2 separate regions of the Homo sapiens genome follow, and region 2 is linked to region 1. Evidence: fine-mapped expression QTL. Tissue or cell type: whole blood. Region 1 holds a variant in brackets; the other region holds the start of a gene. All regions are shown on one strand. Distances are from middle to middle.

Region 1 (8,344 bases):
TAAGAGTAACAATTTACCAAGTAATCCCCTGCCACCAGCCCACACTCCAACTACTTCCATCAGACATCCTGGATCCCAGTCCTGGGAGACTCCCCCTCCCCAGCAGCCTAGCCACCCCCTTACCCACCGCAGACACACGGAAGAGCCTCACCTCGATCCATCTGCCATTGTTCTCTGTAAAGAGGACACAGAAGGGGTCGGACTTGGAGGTAACATCCCGGTCCAGTAGGTTCTGGCCACTCACTGACAGCTCCACCTTGCACACGCAATACTGGGGGCCCATGGGGGCTGCCCCCGCTGCTGGGGCACCCCCACTGGGTATGTGGGCCATGGGAGCCGGTGGCGGTGGCAGGAGTTCCTGGCAGTCTAGGGGAACAGAAGTGAGGGTCAGAGAGTGGACAGACACCTGCTATGCTGCCCCACCATAGGGAGGCATTACCACCTGGCCTTTAAGAGGTGAGTGGAGAGATGGAAGGCAAATTGAGGCGGGTTGTCAAATAACATAGGCAAAGGTTTGAAGAAAGAAGAATGCAAGGAAATGCATGAAAAGGGAGTCTCAGCTGAGCGCAGTGGCTCACGCCTATAATCTCAGCACTTGGGGAGGTCAAGTGCCTGGAAGCCCGGAGTTCAAGACCAGCCTGGCAACAAGGAGGATCCTGTCTCTGCAAAAAATATTTAAAAATCAGCTAGACATGGTGGTGCGTGCCTGTGGTCCCAGCTACTTGGGAGGCTGAGGCAGGAGGATTGCTTGAGGCCAGTAGTTCAAGGTTGCAGTGAGCCGTGATTGCACGTCTCTGCACTCCAGCCTAGGCGACAGAATGATACCATCTCAAAAAAAAAAAAAAAAAAGAAAAGAAAAGAAAAAAGAGTCTCTGTCTCTGGTAGCTGTGTTAAATTTGTCTTTGAAGTTTTTCTCTGCTGTGGTCAGTCTTCACCTGTAAGGATGCACAGCTCCTTGTGTGTTGCTCCGTCACATGAGCAACAAATCACAGTGGACATGGGTGTCTCAGATACTAATTGTGCCAGGAAAACCTGGGCTTCTCCTGAGCAACTAGCATGTTGGCATCTTGTGGCCACAGTGGAGCTGACAACTGCTCAGGCTTCTCTCCTTCCTACTTTGGCCACTAGGAAGCTCACTTCTGGTAACGTCAGAGGCGTTTAAACCAGAGCAACTCCATCTTGAATAGGAACTGGGTAAAATAAGGCTGAAACCTACTGGGCTGCATTCCTAGATGGTTAGGCATTCTGGGTCACAGGATGAGATAGGAGGTCAGCACAAGATACAGGGCATAAAGACCTTGCTGATAAAACAGGCTGCAGTAAAGAAGCCAGCACCAAAACCAAGACGGCCATGAGAGTGACCTCTGGTCGTCCTCACTGCTACACTTCCACCAGGGCCATGACAGTTTACAAATGCCATGGCAACATCAGGAAGTGACCCTATATGGTCTAAAAAGGGGAGGCATGAATAATCTGCCACTTGTTTAGTATATCATCAAGAAATAACCATAAACATGGGCAACCAGCAGCCCTTGGGGCTACTCTGTCTATGGAGTAGCCATTCTTTTATTCCTTTACTTTCTTTTTTTTTTTTTTTTGAGGCAGAGTCTGGCTCTGTCACCCAGGCTGAAGTGCAGTGGCATGATGTCAGCTCACTGCAACCTCCACCTCCTGGGTTCAAGCAATTCTTCTGCCTCAGCCGCCCGAGTAACTGGGACTACAGGCACCCACAACCACGCAAGGGTAATTTTTGTATTTTTAGTAGAGACGAGGTTTCACCACATTGACCAGGCTGGTCTCAAACTCCCGACCTCAGGTGATCCACCCACCTGGGTCTCCCAAATGTGCTGGGATTACAGGCATGAGCCACCGCGCCTGGCTATTCCTTTACTTTCTTAATAAATTTGCTTTCACTTTATGGACTCGTCCTGAATTTCTTCTTGCACAAGATCCAAGAACCCTCTCTTGGGGTCTGGATCGGGACCCCTTTCCTGTAACAGTAACATTAAAAATTCACCCTTGTTCATTGTCTATCACCTTCACCCTGTATCTCTAGCTCATACACAATGACTGGTGCACAGGAAGCATCCAGTATATACTTGCTGAATGAAAAAAGGATGAGTGTATAAATGAATGAATGGACAAACCCTCCATATGCCTCAGATCCTGCCAGCATTGGTCCTTATCTTCAACACACAATTTACCCTTTCACTCATATACAATTTCCCAAAATTCTGTGCCCTGGGCCTCAAGTATCTTCCTCCAGTCAAGGTTAATTACTGACATGTGATCAGTCGAAGGACTTCTGTTTTCCTTTGAGTGCAAGGTGTGAGTGAGACTGGAGCAACCCATCTCAAGGGGTGGAGGGGGACCTAGGTCACACCCATCACAGGCCCAGCAGACAAGTCCTCTGGCTTTCTCTGCCTCAGTTTCCCATCTGCCCATGAGACATCAGGACACAGCCCTTTGAGCCTCCTGTGGTCAGGTCTCATTTCCACTGGCATGTGTGCATTTAACACTGGCCCTGTCATCCCAGTGGTTGAACCTAGCCCCTAAACACCTACCCAACAATGGCCAGGTTCCAACTCCCTAATACTTTGTCCTCCTGAGGCTAAGTGGTTTACTGACCCTGAACTTCTCCAGTGGAGGGAAGTAAGTGGGGGTGGTGGGTGGGCCCCCTCTGGGAACACAAATCCAAGTCACTGTGCTTGTGAGCACTAATTGAGCATGTCACCTGAACAATGTCACTAATCCTCACTCAGTCTTACGAGGCAAGTATAGTAATATAATTTTCCAGAGGAGGAAACTGAGGCTTTCATTCACTCTAGAGGGTGTACTGAGCATCTATTAGGTCCCAAGAACTGTCCCAGTGCTGGGAATGCTACAGTAAGAAGACTGCTCTCGGCTGGGCATGGTGGGCTCATGCCTGTAATCCCAGCACTTTGGGAGGCCCAGGCAGGTGGATCACTTGAAGTCAGGAGTTCAAGACCAGCCTGGCCAACATGGTGAAACCCCATCTCTACTAAAAGTACAAAAATTAGCCAGCATGGTGGCGTGCACCTGTAGTCCCAGCTACTCGGGAGACTGAGGCAGGAGAATTGCTTGAACCCAGGAGGTGGAGATTGCTGTGAGCTGAGATCGCGCCACTGCACTCCAGCCTGGGCAACAGAGCAAGACACTGTCTCAAAAAAAAAAAAAAAAAAAAAAAGATTGCTCTGTCTTAGCCCGTGCAGGGCTCACAGTCCAGTCTGGCAGGAACACAATGAGGGAGCAGGGAGAGTGGCCAGGACCTGCAGGAGCTGTGGGCTCTGATAGGGTGTCTGAGTTTCATTCTGAGAGCAATGGGAAGTCTTAGAAGCAGAGAACTGACATTATCTGATTTGCGTTTTTAAAAGCTTACTTGGCCCCTTGTGGGGAGAAGGGGTTGTCAAGCTAAGGAGAAGTAGCAGAGAGACCAGTGAGGAGGCAGCTGCTGTCCTCCAGGCAGGAAGGATCGAGCCACCATCACTATGCTGGGTCCACTCCTCCTCTCTTTCACCCAGGCCACGGTGCACTCTGGAGCGCCAGCCTCTTGCTGGGCAGATGCAGTCCCCTGCAAGCCCCGGTCTGCAGGAGGCCAGGGTGAGAGTGGGGCTGGCAGCGGAGACCTCCCAGCTTCCCCTCCAGATCCAGTG[T/C]TCCCCGGACATGCCTGGCAGGGGAAAAATCTGGACAACGATGAAGCTGGTCCTCAGCCCCCTCCCTCCCAGCCTTTGTTCCTAGAACCTTGTTATAATCACACGAGCTCAGAGCATCAGGACAGCACTACAATTTGCCTGCAGGATTTATTCTTGTGTAAAAATCAGTTTCCACTGGAGGAGCTGGTGAACTGCGTTCACTCTTACTGTGTGCAGCTGGGCAGCTGTGCCAAGTTGGGGTGGGGTGGGGAAGGGGGCAGACAGGGATGTCCAAAGTCTTGCTGTGTGGCTGAGAGCGCCTTCCCATGCCTGCAGGACAATTGCCCCCATTTTAGAGATGAGGAAACTGAGGCCCAGAGAGTAAAAGTCACTTGCTTGAGGTTACAGGGCCAGGAAAAGGCAGAGACAGGATGTGAATCAGGTCTCCCAGGCCAATGCTTGGCCTTTTGCCAGGGTGGGGAGATTGCTGAACATTGTGGGACCTAGGCAGGGACAGCCAGGACATCAGCCAGGCCAGGGGAGCCTGAGGCTAAGCGGGCAGGTTGTGATCAGGGCTGGGGAAGCCAAGGGCATTCCCCCATTTGAACACACACCCAGGATGGGCCCCAGAGTATCCAAGTTCACCAGTTCCTCTGGGTCACCCAGTCCACACCCCTGCATCTCCCACCATTGCTGGCGAGGTGGATTCTAGCTCACCTACCCCCTCCTCACTTCACAGGCCCCCTCTGTGACATGTTAGATGCCACCTGGGCCACCATCTCCTGCTGCCAAATCAGACACTTCTCTTCTCATCCTGAGGGTGTCAGGCACACACGCCCAGATTCACCTGCTTCCTTGTCCATTTACACACGTGTGGTCACATATACACACATACACATACGCACCCAGACTGACAAATACAATGACAGATGCTCATATGAACACTCTGGGGTCACCTCCTTCTGTCCCCATCACTACCCTACCCCCGCCCCTCTGCCTCATCCAAGCCCCATTATCTTGCCTTGGTTACTATACCAGCCTCCTGCCTTTCCCTCCCTCCAGCCTGACTGAGGGCGTGGGCAGGAGGGACAGGTCACAGGGGCAGGGGGCGGTGGCTGGGCCAGGAGCCCCCAGCTCACTGCAACTCCACCTGGATCGGCTCAGGCCCTGGCTAGAGTGAGCAATGGGTGGGTGGGAAGGGAACTCCTCCCCGAGCCAGGGGCAGGTCCTCCCATCTCCAACTCACCCTCTGGCTGGAAGCTTCTGGATCCCCGAAACGGGGAGCACATGATGTCTGGAGTTGGGGCAGGCGGGGGGAAGAGTGGGTCCCTCTGCGCCAGCCCAGCAGCAGCCAGGCGTACTGGACCCTGAGGCCTGACGCAATGGAAAAAGAAACTACAGCTTAGGCTGGGCCAGGGGCCCCCTCCCCTCCTACCCCAGCAGGAGGGCAGGCAGGCAAGGTGTCATTAAGGGAGGGCTGGGCCTGCCATGCGCATCTGGGCACGATGGAAACACCTCTGGGGCAGCCCCCACCCCATAGGTAATTTGAGGTTTCAGGCTGGGGGATGGGATGGGGAGCCAGGGCCTGCTTAAAGCATGGTCCTGACTCCTGGCACAGATGGGCACAGCCCTTCTGGGGTGACCAGACCCCCCAGGCAAGGAGCTTGGAGAGGGGTTTATGAAACTAGTGGTCTCTTTTACAGATGGGTCAACTGAGGCAAAGAGAGGACAGGACTTGGGAATTCCCAGGCACTGATTCATTGGTTCATTCAACAAATACTCCCTGAGCACCCCGGGGCTATGCAGTTAATAAAACACACAGGAGCCAGTGGTGGCTCACACCTGTAATCTCAGCACTTTGGGAGGCTGAGGTGGAAGAATGGCTTGGGCCCAGGAGTTTGGGGCTGCGGTGAGCTGTGATTGTGCCACTGCACTCCAACCTGGGCGATAGAGCAAAACCCTGTCTTAAAAGTTAAAAAAAAAAAAAAAACCGGACACATAGGATTCAGCCCTCACAGGGTCCACTGACCCCAGCGAGGAGGCATCTTGCCCTTAGGCAGGACAGGCTTGGACATTGGTGCTGAGCCACAGGCCTAGAACATCACGGTTTTAGCCAGAAAACTAGGAATTCATCGTCCTTAATCTCCTTTTATCTTCACCTCCTATATGCCACCAGTGCTGCTGATTTCACCTTCAAGCTGCATTCAGCATCCGTCCTCTCCCCACTTCCACTATGTCAGCCCAGCCAGGCTCCCATCATCTCGTGCCCAGACACACCCTGACCCATAACAGGAATCTCTGATGCAAGCTCAGCTGCACTCTCTTTTCCACACCAGAGCCAGAGGGAGTCTTTAAACCTAGAAGTCAGATGCCACCATGGCTCTACCTGAAAGTCTTCCTGTGACCTCCTCATCCAGGTCACACAAACCCCAAATCGTGCCCAGGATGACAGGACCCTGCCTGACCTGTCCCCACTTCCTGCCACCCTCCCCCTCGCTTGCTTCCTTTGGCCCAGCTGCACTGGCCTCCCTTTGCTGTCAGGCTCTCTCCTGCCTCAGGGCCTTAGCACTTGCTGTTCCTTTTTCCAGGAATGCCTTTCTTCACAGGAAAGGTCTTACTTGTCAGCTTAATATCACATCCTCAGAGGCCTTCCCTGATCACCCAGGCTGATGTAATCTGTCTCCGCTCCATGCTGCTTCCTTCACAGATCACTGCAATGTACAATCGTTTTACATATCTGTCTATGTACCTGTGTCTGTCTGCCCCGTCCCTCAGGAGGACATCATCACTGTTTCCCCAGCACCTATGGCCGTATCTGCATATGTGAGCACCTAATCAATGAGGAAGGTGGGGGCTCGTCAGGCAGGCTCCATCATCAGCAGCCCCAGAGCAATCATAGCCACCTCCCCCTGCACACATCACTTGAGAGAATCACAGGCAGCTTCTCAAACCCTAGGGTCTGAGAGGCCAGCAGGAGAGGGACTGTGTCCTACTTCACAGGGGTGGAAACTGAGGCCCAACAAGAGGCAGTGGTTTTTTTAAGCCAGGGAAGGATGGTGACTAGGCCCAGAGCCAAGGCTGCCATCACTCCATCCTTCCCACTTTGGCTCTGCCATTTAACTGCTCTGTGACCTCTGGCAAGTTCCTTCAACTCCCTATGTCTCAGTTTCTCCCTCTGTAAAATGGGAACAAGAGTGCCTTCCGGCCGGGCGTGGTGGCTCACACCTGTGATCCCAGCACTTTGGGAGGCCGAGGCAGCTGGGATCACCTGAGGTCAGGAGTTCAAGACCAGCCTGGCCAACATGGTGGAACCCCATCTCTACTAAAAATACAAAAATTAGCTGGGCGTGGTGGTGTGTGCCCTTAATCCCAGCTACTCGGGAAGCTGAGGCAGGAGAATTGCTTGAACCTGGGAGGCGGAGGTTGCAATGAGCCTAGATTGCACCACTGCACTCCAGCCTGGGTGAGAGAGCAAGACCCCATATCAAAACAAAAACAAAAAACAACAACCAAAAAAGAGTGCTTTCCTAGGTGTTGTGAGGATTCAGTGAGGTAAAGCACTTGGAACAATAGGTAGCTTTTGCTATGATCAGTGATTCTTAATGGCTGTGAGGAGAAAGTAGCCCTGGCCCCACCGCGATGTAGAACCCGGGAACCAGCTATAGTGTAAAGGAGCTCACTGTCGGGGAGGAGCTGCTGGGCCGGCTGGGTGGGGGGACCTCCAACTTAGAAATGGGCGGAGAGGAGGGGACAGTGAGAGAGGCAGGCACAGGGAAGCAGATGGCCCAGGAGGAGGCCTGGTAACCCCGAAGGGGAGAAGAGCTGCTGGATGGTGAAGGGCAGGCCTGAGGTGGCCAGGGAGGCAGCCCCCATTCCAGAGGCTGGTGGAGAGGAGGAGCTGGGACCACAGTGGGATGTCCTGTCGTAAATTCTAGCAAGGGCACCGTGTGCTGTCAGAAAAGCACATGCAACTTGATGTGTAGAAAAGGGAAAAACAGGCCAGGTGTGGCAGCCCACGCTTATGATCCTAACACTTTGGGAGGCTGAGGTGGGAGAACTGCTTGAGGCCAGGAGTTTGAGGCCAGCCTGGGGCAACACAGTGAGATCCTGTCTCTACAAAAATAAAAAATAAAAAAATTAGCCAGGTGTGGTGGTACACACCTGTAGCTACTAGGGAGCCTGAGGCAGGAAAATTACTTGAGCCTGCAAGGTCAAGGCTGCAGTGAGCTGTGATTGTGCCACTGCGCTCGAATCTGGGTGACAGAGTGAGATCCTGTCTCTCAAAACAAAAAAAGAAAGAAAAAAATAGATTCTGTTTTGCTGGTGGCAGTAACAAAGAAAGGGGCGTGGTTGCCTGGTCACGGTCAGTACCAGGCATTAGTTAGGAACCCATTATGTGAGGTCTGAATCCCCAGCAATTCTTAATGTCTGGGGAAGAGGGGAAAGTAGATAAAAAATTTGGGGGATGTGTAAAGTTAACAGTTTACATAAAGGGGGCGAGGTTAAAACTGATTGAGAGGGCCGGGCATGGTGGCTCATACCTGTAATCCCAGCACTTGGGGAGGCTGAGGCGGGCGGATCATCCGAAGTCGGGAGCTCAAGACTAGCCTGGCCAACAAGGTGAAACCCCATCTCTACTAAAAATACAAAAATTAGCCAGGCATGGTGGTAGGTGCCTGTAATCCCAGCTA
Region 2 (8,000 bases), 180 kb before region 1:
GCTAACTGCAACCTCCGCCTCCCGGGTTCAAGTGATTCTCCTGCCTCAGCCTCCTGAGTAGCTGGGATTACAGGCGTGTACTACCACGCCCAGCTATTTTTTTGTATTTTTAGTAGAAACAGGGTTTCGCCATGTTGGCCAGGCTGATCTGGAACTCCTGACCTCAGGTGATCCACCTGCCAAAGTGCTGGGATTACAGCCGTGAGCCACCGTGCCTGGCCAAATTTCTGTTGTTTTAAGTCACCAAGTTAGAGCAGCCACAGGGCACTAATACAGTCCTCTAAATAGCCTGTGTGATCCGGCCCTGGCCCGTGTTGCCAATCTCACCCTTACTCACTTGGCTCTAGCCCTACCAAGGACCTTTTTCTGTTCTCAAAACTGGTCCAGCCTCAGGGCTCCTGCACTTATTAAATTCTTCCCCCAGAATTCCCAAGGCTAGCCCCTACTCATGATTTGGGTCTCTGCATAAATGTCACCTCTTCCCACAGGTCTTCCTTGACCACCTTAACCCAGAAATCACCTGTGGGTGACTCTGTGTCACATTCCCCCATTTTACTTTAGTCACAGCGTTTGTCACTATCTGAAAGTATTATTCCTCCCGGGTTTATTACTTCTCATCCCCACCAGACAGTGGGATCCAACGACTGAAATCCTATCATTTGTGGCAACACAGATGAACCTGGAGGACATCATGTGAGTGAAATAAGCCAGGCATAGAAAGACAAACACCACGTGGTCTCTCTCATATGTGGAATGAAATAAAGAAGTTGATCTCGGCCAGGTGCAGTGGCTCACGCCTGTAATCCCAGCACTTTGGGAGGCCAAGACAGGTGGATCACCTGATTTCAGGAGTTTGATACCAGCCTGGCCAACATGGTGAAACCTTGTCTCTACTAAAATTACAAAAAATTAGCTTAGCGTGCTGGCGGGCGCCTGTAATCCGAGCTACTCAGGCAAGAGAATTGCTTGAACCTGGGAGGCGGAGGTTGCAGTGAGCCGAGGTCGCGCCATTGCACTCCAGACTGGGCAACAAGAGCAAAACGCCATCTCAAATAAATAAATAAATAAATTGATCTCATAGTAGAGTAGAATAGTGGTTACAGGAGGCTGGGGTGTAGTGGGAGGATACAAAGAGGTTGGTTAACAGGTACAAAGTTACAGTTAGGGCTGGGCATGGTGGCTCACACCTGTAATTCCAGCACTTTGAAAGGCCAAGGCGGGTGGATCGCTTGAGGCCAGGAGTGCGAAACCAGTCTGGGCAACATGGAGAGACCCCATCTCTACAAAAAAATTTAAAAAAATTAGTCAGGGCTGGGCCCAGTGGCTGATGCCTGTAATCCCAGCCCTTTGGGAGGCCAAGGTGGGCGGATCACAAGACCAGCCTGGCCAACATGGTGAAACCCAGTCTCTATTACAGATACAAAAAATTAGCTGGGCATGGTGGCTCGAGCCTGTAATTCCAGCAAGACTCCATCTCAAAAAAAAAAAAAAATTAGTTGGGCATGGTGGCGTGCACCTGTAGTCCTAGCTACTAGGGAGGCTGAGGTGAGAAGATCACTTGAGCCTAGGGGTTGGAGGCTGCAGTAGGCTATGATCATGCCACTGCCCTCCAGCCTGGGTGACAGAGTGGGACCTCGCCTCAAAATAAATAAAAGTAAAAAGAAAAAAATACCAATATTGTACATTTCTTTTCTTTTTTTGTTTTTGTTTTTAGATGGAGTCTGGCTCTGTCACCCAGGCTGGAGTGCAGTGGCATGATTTCAGCTCACTGCAACCTCTGCCTCCCTGGGTTCGAGTGATTCTCCTGTCTCAGCCTCCTGTGTAGCTGGGACTACAGGCACCCACCATCATGCCTGGCTAATTTTTTTGTATTTTTGTAGAGACAGGGTTTTGCCATGTTGACCAGGCTGGTCTCAAACTCATGACCTCTGGTGATCTGCCTGCCTTGGCCTCCCAAAGTGCTGGGATTATAGGCGTGAGCCACAGCGCCTGGCCCTAATATTGTATATTTCAAAATATGGTAGCTAGAAGTGGGGATTTTGAATGTTCTCACCCCAAAGAAGCCATAAATGTATGAGGTGATGGATATGCTAAGTACCTTGATTTGATTTTTTTACACAACGTACACAGGTACCAAAACATCACATGGTACCCCATATTTAGGTACAATTATAGGTTGCCGAAAAAGTAATTGCGGTTTTTGCTATACTTTTATATGCAAAAACCGTATAACTTTTGCACCAACCTAATATTACATGTCAGTTAAAAACAATTTTTTAAGTGGCTCTCTTTTTAAGTGGGTATTTGGGAAAAAAAAAATGTGGGAGCCAAGAAGGCCTTGTCTACTTCGTTTCCTGCTGTATCCACAGGGCCTGGCATGTAGTAGGTGTTCAGCAAACATTGGTTGATGAATGCATGATGACCTATCTGTGCAAACCTCTAGGCTCAAGAGGTGTGTGTGTGTGTGTAAGTATTTTAGGGTGCATGTGTGGCAATGAAACTGTATATGACCTCCCATCTTCTGAGTGACCCCTCCTCCCTCACGCTGTCAGGAGCTTTCTGGGGAATATTTCATTTATTCCCTACAACGCTCTGTGAGGCAGGTTTCCTTCGTATCTATATGACAGACGAGGAAACTGAGGCTCCGCGATCATCTAAGTTATATAAAATATGTTCAGAAGTGAAAACAGCATTAATAGGCAGAAAAGGACCTCCCCCTTCTACCGCTTACCCACCGCTTACCCAGACCCTCCCCTTCCCCGCGCTGGGTCTCCCAGGATTCTTCTTTACTTTCTTTTCTATAAAATACAGACGGGGGGAGGGGGGGCGTCTCACTGTGTTACCCAGGCTGGTCTCGAACTCTTGGCCTGAAATTATCCTTTCACCTTAGCCTCCCAAAGTGCTGCGATCAGAGGCAGGAGCCACCGCATCCAGCCTTCTCCCGGGACTCTTCAAGAGTCGCTGCGCCGGGGCCTAGGCCGAGGGTGCACAGCGCGTAGAAAGCGCCTGGGAGAGCGGTGTCCCCCGCGAGCTACCACAAGTTTATCCCTAGGCGCGGAAGCTACCACGGCCTGGGCGAGAGCCGGGAAATTCCCAGCGGGCGGCTTGCCCCGGGGGAGGCCGGCGAAGCGGTCTAGGCTGGTGCTGGCGGAGCCGATTCACGGACCCGGGGTTGTTTACTGGTCCGGGGAGTGGACGCGGCTGCCCACGAACCGGTCGCGGCTGGGGCGGCGGCGGCGAGCAAAGGGTTAAGGGGGCGGCCCCGGCGGCGGGGGCGGAGCCGGGATCTCGGCCGCACCTGGCGCCCCAGGCTCCCAGCCCCGACGCCTCCTGCAGCGCCTGGAGCCACACAGGGATCCGGAGCCTGGGGGAAAAGCGGCGCGGGAGCCGGCACCCACCGCTGGAGGGGCGGCGACGGCGGCCGTAGCGACCTCGGGAGGCAAGCGGAGCCGCCATGGCCGAGTTCCCGTCGAAAGTTAGCACGCGGACCAGCAGTCCTGCGCAGGGCGCCGAAGCCTCGGTGTCGGCGCTGCGCCCGGACCTGGGCTTCGTGCGCTCCCGCCTCGGGGCGCTCATGCTGCTGCAGCTGGTGAGAGCACGCGCGGGCCCACGGGGTTGGCCGGGGGCTCCCGGTCCGGCCAGGATGGGTGAGGGACTCCGGCGCTGCGTTCATTTTTCGCGAACCTTGCGCTCCCCACCCGGGCTCACACTGTCACCGACGCGCTGCGCGTACCCCTAGGGCGCTTCCCGCACGGACGCCCCCAAGATCGCCCTGCATCCCTCTCACCACGACACTACCCCGTGGCCGTCGCTGCGAGCGTGAGCACCCTGCACCGTGTACAGAGTGCCCACTGCCCGTGCCCCATCGTGCCCCCTCCAAGGTGGTTACCAGCGGCCACAGAAGCCCCCACCGGAGCCACAGTCACTGCGCACAACCCGCCAACCCTTCCCAGCCCTCCCTTCCCTCCTCTCTCTTTTTCACCCCTCTTTCTGCCCGGACAGTGCCCCCAGCCCTCTAGGGAACCCAGTCTGAGGCAAAGTCCACTCTCTGACCACCTTCTGTCCCGCTCCCAGCGGCTCCGGGTGGCCGCACCCATGAACATTCCTCATCTAATCTAGAGGGCACATCCGACTCCCCAACACGCACACTCAGGCACTACCCTGTGGGCGCCCGCGCGGGAGCCGGGCTCTTCTAGCTTTCTCTGGGTGACCCGCCAGGTTTCAGCCGGTTTAGCCAGCCCCACGGGACCGAGATATCGCTGGAGGGAGGGGTTTGTGGGTAGCCAGGGGCAAGACTCCTACTCTCTCCCAGACCCCTGTACAGACCCCAACTGAGGCGGACCCATGGGAACATCCTCCACTCCCACACCAGCCACAGGCCCGGATGTTAGCTTCTTCCTCTGCCACCCTTTCGTGAGGGTCTGGAAGCTGGGTGGGTGCCCTGGGTGGGTGAGGGCCTGATACATTTTCAGAGGACTCAGGTGGAATTGGAGTTGGGCCAGGACCTGTATTTCTTAGCAATCCAGCGAGTGGACATTTCCCATTGTCTCCTATTGCTGGGTGCTAGCGCTGCTGCGAGGCCCAAGCTAGAGGGCAGGGTGGTTGCTTTGGTGCCAGACCCTGGGCTGAGGTCCAGTCTCCCTTCCCTGACCTCTCCAGGTGCGGGCCCACCTCTACCTGGGTCAGTGCTATCTCATTTCAGGATTTCTCAGATCTCTGTGGGCCCCCTCCCCAACCTCTGAATCTCCTGGCGGGTTTGTTTAAAATTTAGATTATTGGACTCCACCCCCGGAAAAAAATGTGCAATCGGAATTTGAATCTCAGGAAGTACAGCCAGAAATTCATTTTTAACAGTTCTCCCAGAGTTTTTTGTTTGTTTCTCTTTTGGGGGGTGGGGGAGAAGGGGAGAAGATTCTGTCTTCTGAGGGAAGAGGTCTAGTTCCTGGAATCATTTAATTCTGCAGATGGGGAGAGCCACTGACCCCGCCACCGCTAGAATGCTCTGCTCTGGGCTGGTTGTGAGGGGCACAGCCATGAGCAGCTGCCTGGCTGCCCAGGGGAGAGCCAGGTGGGTGTGAGAAGTGGTGCGAAAGGGCAGAGGAGAAGGAGAGCAATTTCACGACCAGGAAGGCTTGTTGGAGGAGGTGGTTTTTGAGCAGAGACTTCACTGAAATCTGAGGCAGACGCAGGGAAAGGGTGTTCCAAGGGCAGGGAACAGTGTGAGCCAAGATGTGGTGATGAGAAAGTTGAATTAATTTGCAGGGAGTAGCCAACAGGTTGGTGGTGCTGGAGTTGAAGCACTTGTTTCTGGTGTGGACAGAAGCCAAGGGCCTTGTGTAACTTCTGCGAGCTACAGGGTCTAGGTTCTGTTGGTGGCCTTAAGAGGTTTTGGAACAGAAGAGGGATCTTGCTGGGTGGAGGATGATGACTGGCAAGATCCCTGTGAGGGATCCCTCAGCATCCCTGGTGAGGTGGATCCTGAGGCTGGCCCCTGATGGACAGGAGGATTGCTTGTGGCCAGAAGTTCAAGACCAGCCTGGGCAACATATTGAGACCCTGTCTCTACAAAAAAAAGGAAAAAAAAAATAGCCAGGCATGGTGGTATGCGCCTGTGGTCTCAGCTACTTGGGAGGCTGAGGTAGGAGGACCCCTTGTGCCTGGGAGTTTGAGGCTACAGTGACTTTGATCGCACCACTGCACTCCAGCCTGGGTGACAGAATGAGACTTTGTCTCAAACAGACAAACACACACACAAAAAAAAAAAAAGAAAAGAAAAAAGAAAGAGACTAGCAATAGGGGCAATAGGGGGAATGGAAGGCATTGGAGTAAGAGGAGGATGTTGCTGCTGTGGGCCGCAAGGGTCTTGGTAGCTTCCTCTAGGGCAGGCTTGTGTTCCTGATTGGGGTTGGGATGGGTGGGGGCATCCCCTGTGGCCTCAGCAATCCAGCCCTGCGCATCTGGGTCCCATTACACAGACGTAGACATTGAGGTCTAGTTAGAAGGACTTGCCAGGAGTCCTGTAATAGAGCTTGGCACTTGGGTCTCTTGACTCTCAGGGACTGGGTGTGAGGGAAGTGGGCTCCTTTTGCTCCCTACCTGCAGTGCCTTTGAGGGGATGAGGGTCTTCCATCAGAGTTCTGAAAATGACCTGCACATTTTAGTGCCTTAGAAATCTGCTTGTTGGGGCCAGGTGTGGTGGCTCACGCCTGTAATCCCAGCACTTTGGGAGGCCGAGGTGGGCAGATCACGAGGTCAGGAGACGGAGACCATCCCGGCTAACAGGGTGAAACCCCATCTCTACTAAAAATACAACAAAATTAGCCTGGCATGGTGGTGGGTGCCTGCAGTCCCAGCTACTCGGGAGGCTGAGGCGGGAGAATGGCGTGAACCCGGGAGGTGGAGCTTGCAGTGAGCCGAGATGGCGCCACGGCACTCCAGCCTGGGAGACAGAAAGAGACTCCGTCTCAAAAAAAAAAAGAAATAAAAAAAAAATCTGCTTGTTGGAGAAGCTGCATCCTGAGCTGTTTCTCTGGCAACAGGTAGTTCCACTGGGTCTGAAATGGGATATGTGGGGGTTAATCCAACAGGCACCACCATCTGCTGGGAAGCCATGGTAGCTCCCATCTATCAGGCCAGCACTAGGCTCAGGCCCTTTGCCAAGGCCTTTAGATCTTCTTAGTCGGCCCCATTTTAGGTGAGAAAACTGAGGCTCAGAGGCCAGTTCTTTGCCCAAGATCTCACAGCCCTCCTCCACAGGAGTGATTTTTCTGACTTTTCTGGCCTATGGTCTTAATGACCACGTGTGGCTTTGCTGCTACCTTCCCAGGATCTGTCATTATGGAGGGAGTGGTGGGGACCCTGGGCCCACAGCCTGCTTTCCAGGAGCTCTTGGTCAGTGAGAGAGGTGCCCAGAGGATGTGCTTCTCCCAGAGGGATCAGAGAAGGCTGCATGGAGCAGGAAATAAATGAGAAAATGGAAGCTAATTCTCCATCAAACCCTTCTGTTTCCCAGGATTTGATGAATGTTCCTGGTATGGTGGGAGGAAGGGGAGGTGGGTAGAAAGGCTCCCAGCTCCTGGAGAAGGAGATACACTTTTCATTCGGTATCAGAATGTGTCCTGAAGAACCAATCTCAGTATTCTTCACAGATGTCTGGTGGTGTTCATTGATTTATCACTATCGTTATTCCTTGTAGATTCAGAAAGAACACCAGATGGAATATGATATTAAACCACATAAGACAGAAGAGTTAAAGCGATGTATCTTTAAAAGCTGGTGGTGTGGAGGGGAGAATTGACTTGCAGCAAGTTTAAGGCTGTTGATTATTTGTTGAACTTCCTAGCAGCCTAGGCAAAAAGGGAAACATGAAGAATCTATGCAGATAGCGTCTAAAAAAGGAGGCAGGTCTTTGTTTTGTTTTGTTTTGTTTTCTCTTGCCAATGGATTCATGTCACAAGGCAGGCAAGTTTGATCTACAGATAACTCTTTTGGTTTTAAAAAAAAAAGGCATCAGTGCTACAGATTTTTGTGTAGCTCAGGTGGAAGAATGCAGAAGGCGTGGTTATTTGCTTATGGGGAGCTCCCAAAGCCTTTTTACAATAAGTATAAAGTAGTGCTGTTAGGTGCCCATCTCTCATTTTTTCAAGCCTCCCCAAGCCGTGGGGAGAAGGATGATCTTATCTGGATTTACTGATAAGTAAATAGGCTCCGAGAGGGTGAGGAACTTGTCCAAGGTCACACAGGATAGAGTGGCAAGCTTGGCTTTGCACTTCGATCTGGAAATCCAAAACCTGGCTCTAGCTATGCTTCCTCATCTTGTTTACTTTGGGGGTGGGAAGTTCTAGAGTGCTTTCTAGGGGGAAAAGGGGGACTGCAGGAAGGGAGACTCATCAGGGGCCAAGGCCATCAGGGAGGGCTTCCTGGCATAGGAAGGGAGAAGGAGGATCAGGACAGACCAGAGCTTGTACAGAGACCTGTCAGTCAGTAGGCGTCCTTGAGGC

The links. PIP is the estimated chance that this variant, and not a neighbour inherited with it, causes the effect.
Region 2: it holds the start of PLLP, and the variant in region 1 is fine-mapped to the expression of PLLP in whole blood (TOPMed, PIP 0.95).

Annotation. Positions count from the first base shown.
Region 1 is chr16:57,102,730-57,111,073 of GRCh38, reverse strand. It overlaps CPNE2 (copine 2), which reads right to left. Exons shown (of 16, transcript NM_152727.6): 2 at 152-366. The coding sequence starts at 331. Among named protein-coding and RNA genes, the nearest start is that of CPNE2, 14 kb to the right of the region's middle. RefSeq lists enhancers at 5,113-5,712, 6,992-7,947. The variant T/C (reference allele first, on the strand shown) is at 3,675.
Region 2 is chr16:57,279,995-57,287,994 of GRCh38, reverse strand. It overlaps PLLP (plasmolipin), which reads left to right and starts at 3,323. Exons shown (of 4, transcript NM_015993.3): 1 at 3,323-3,589. The coding sequence starts at 3,455. RefSeq lists silencers at 668-880, 3,130-3,539 and an enhancer at 3,584-4,245.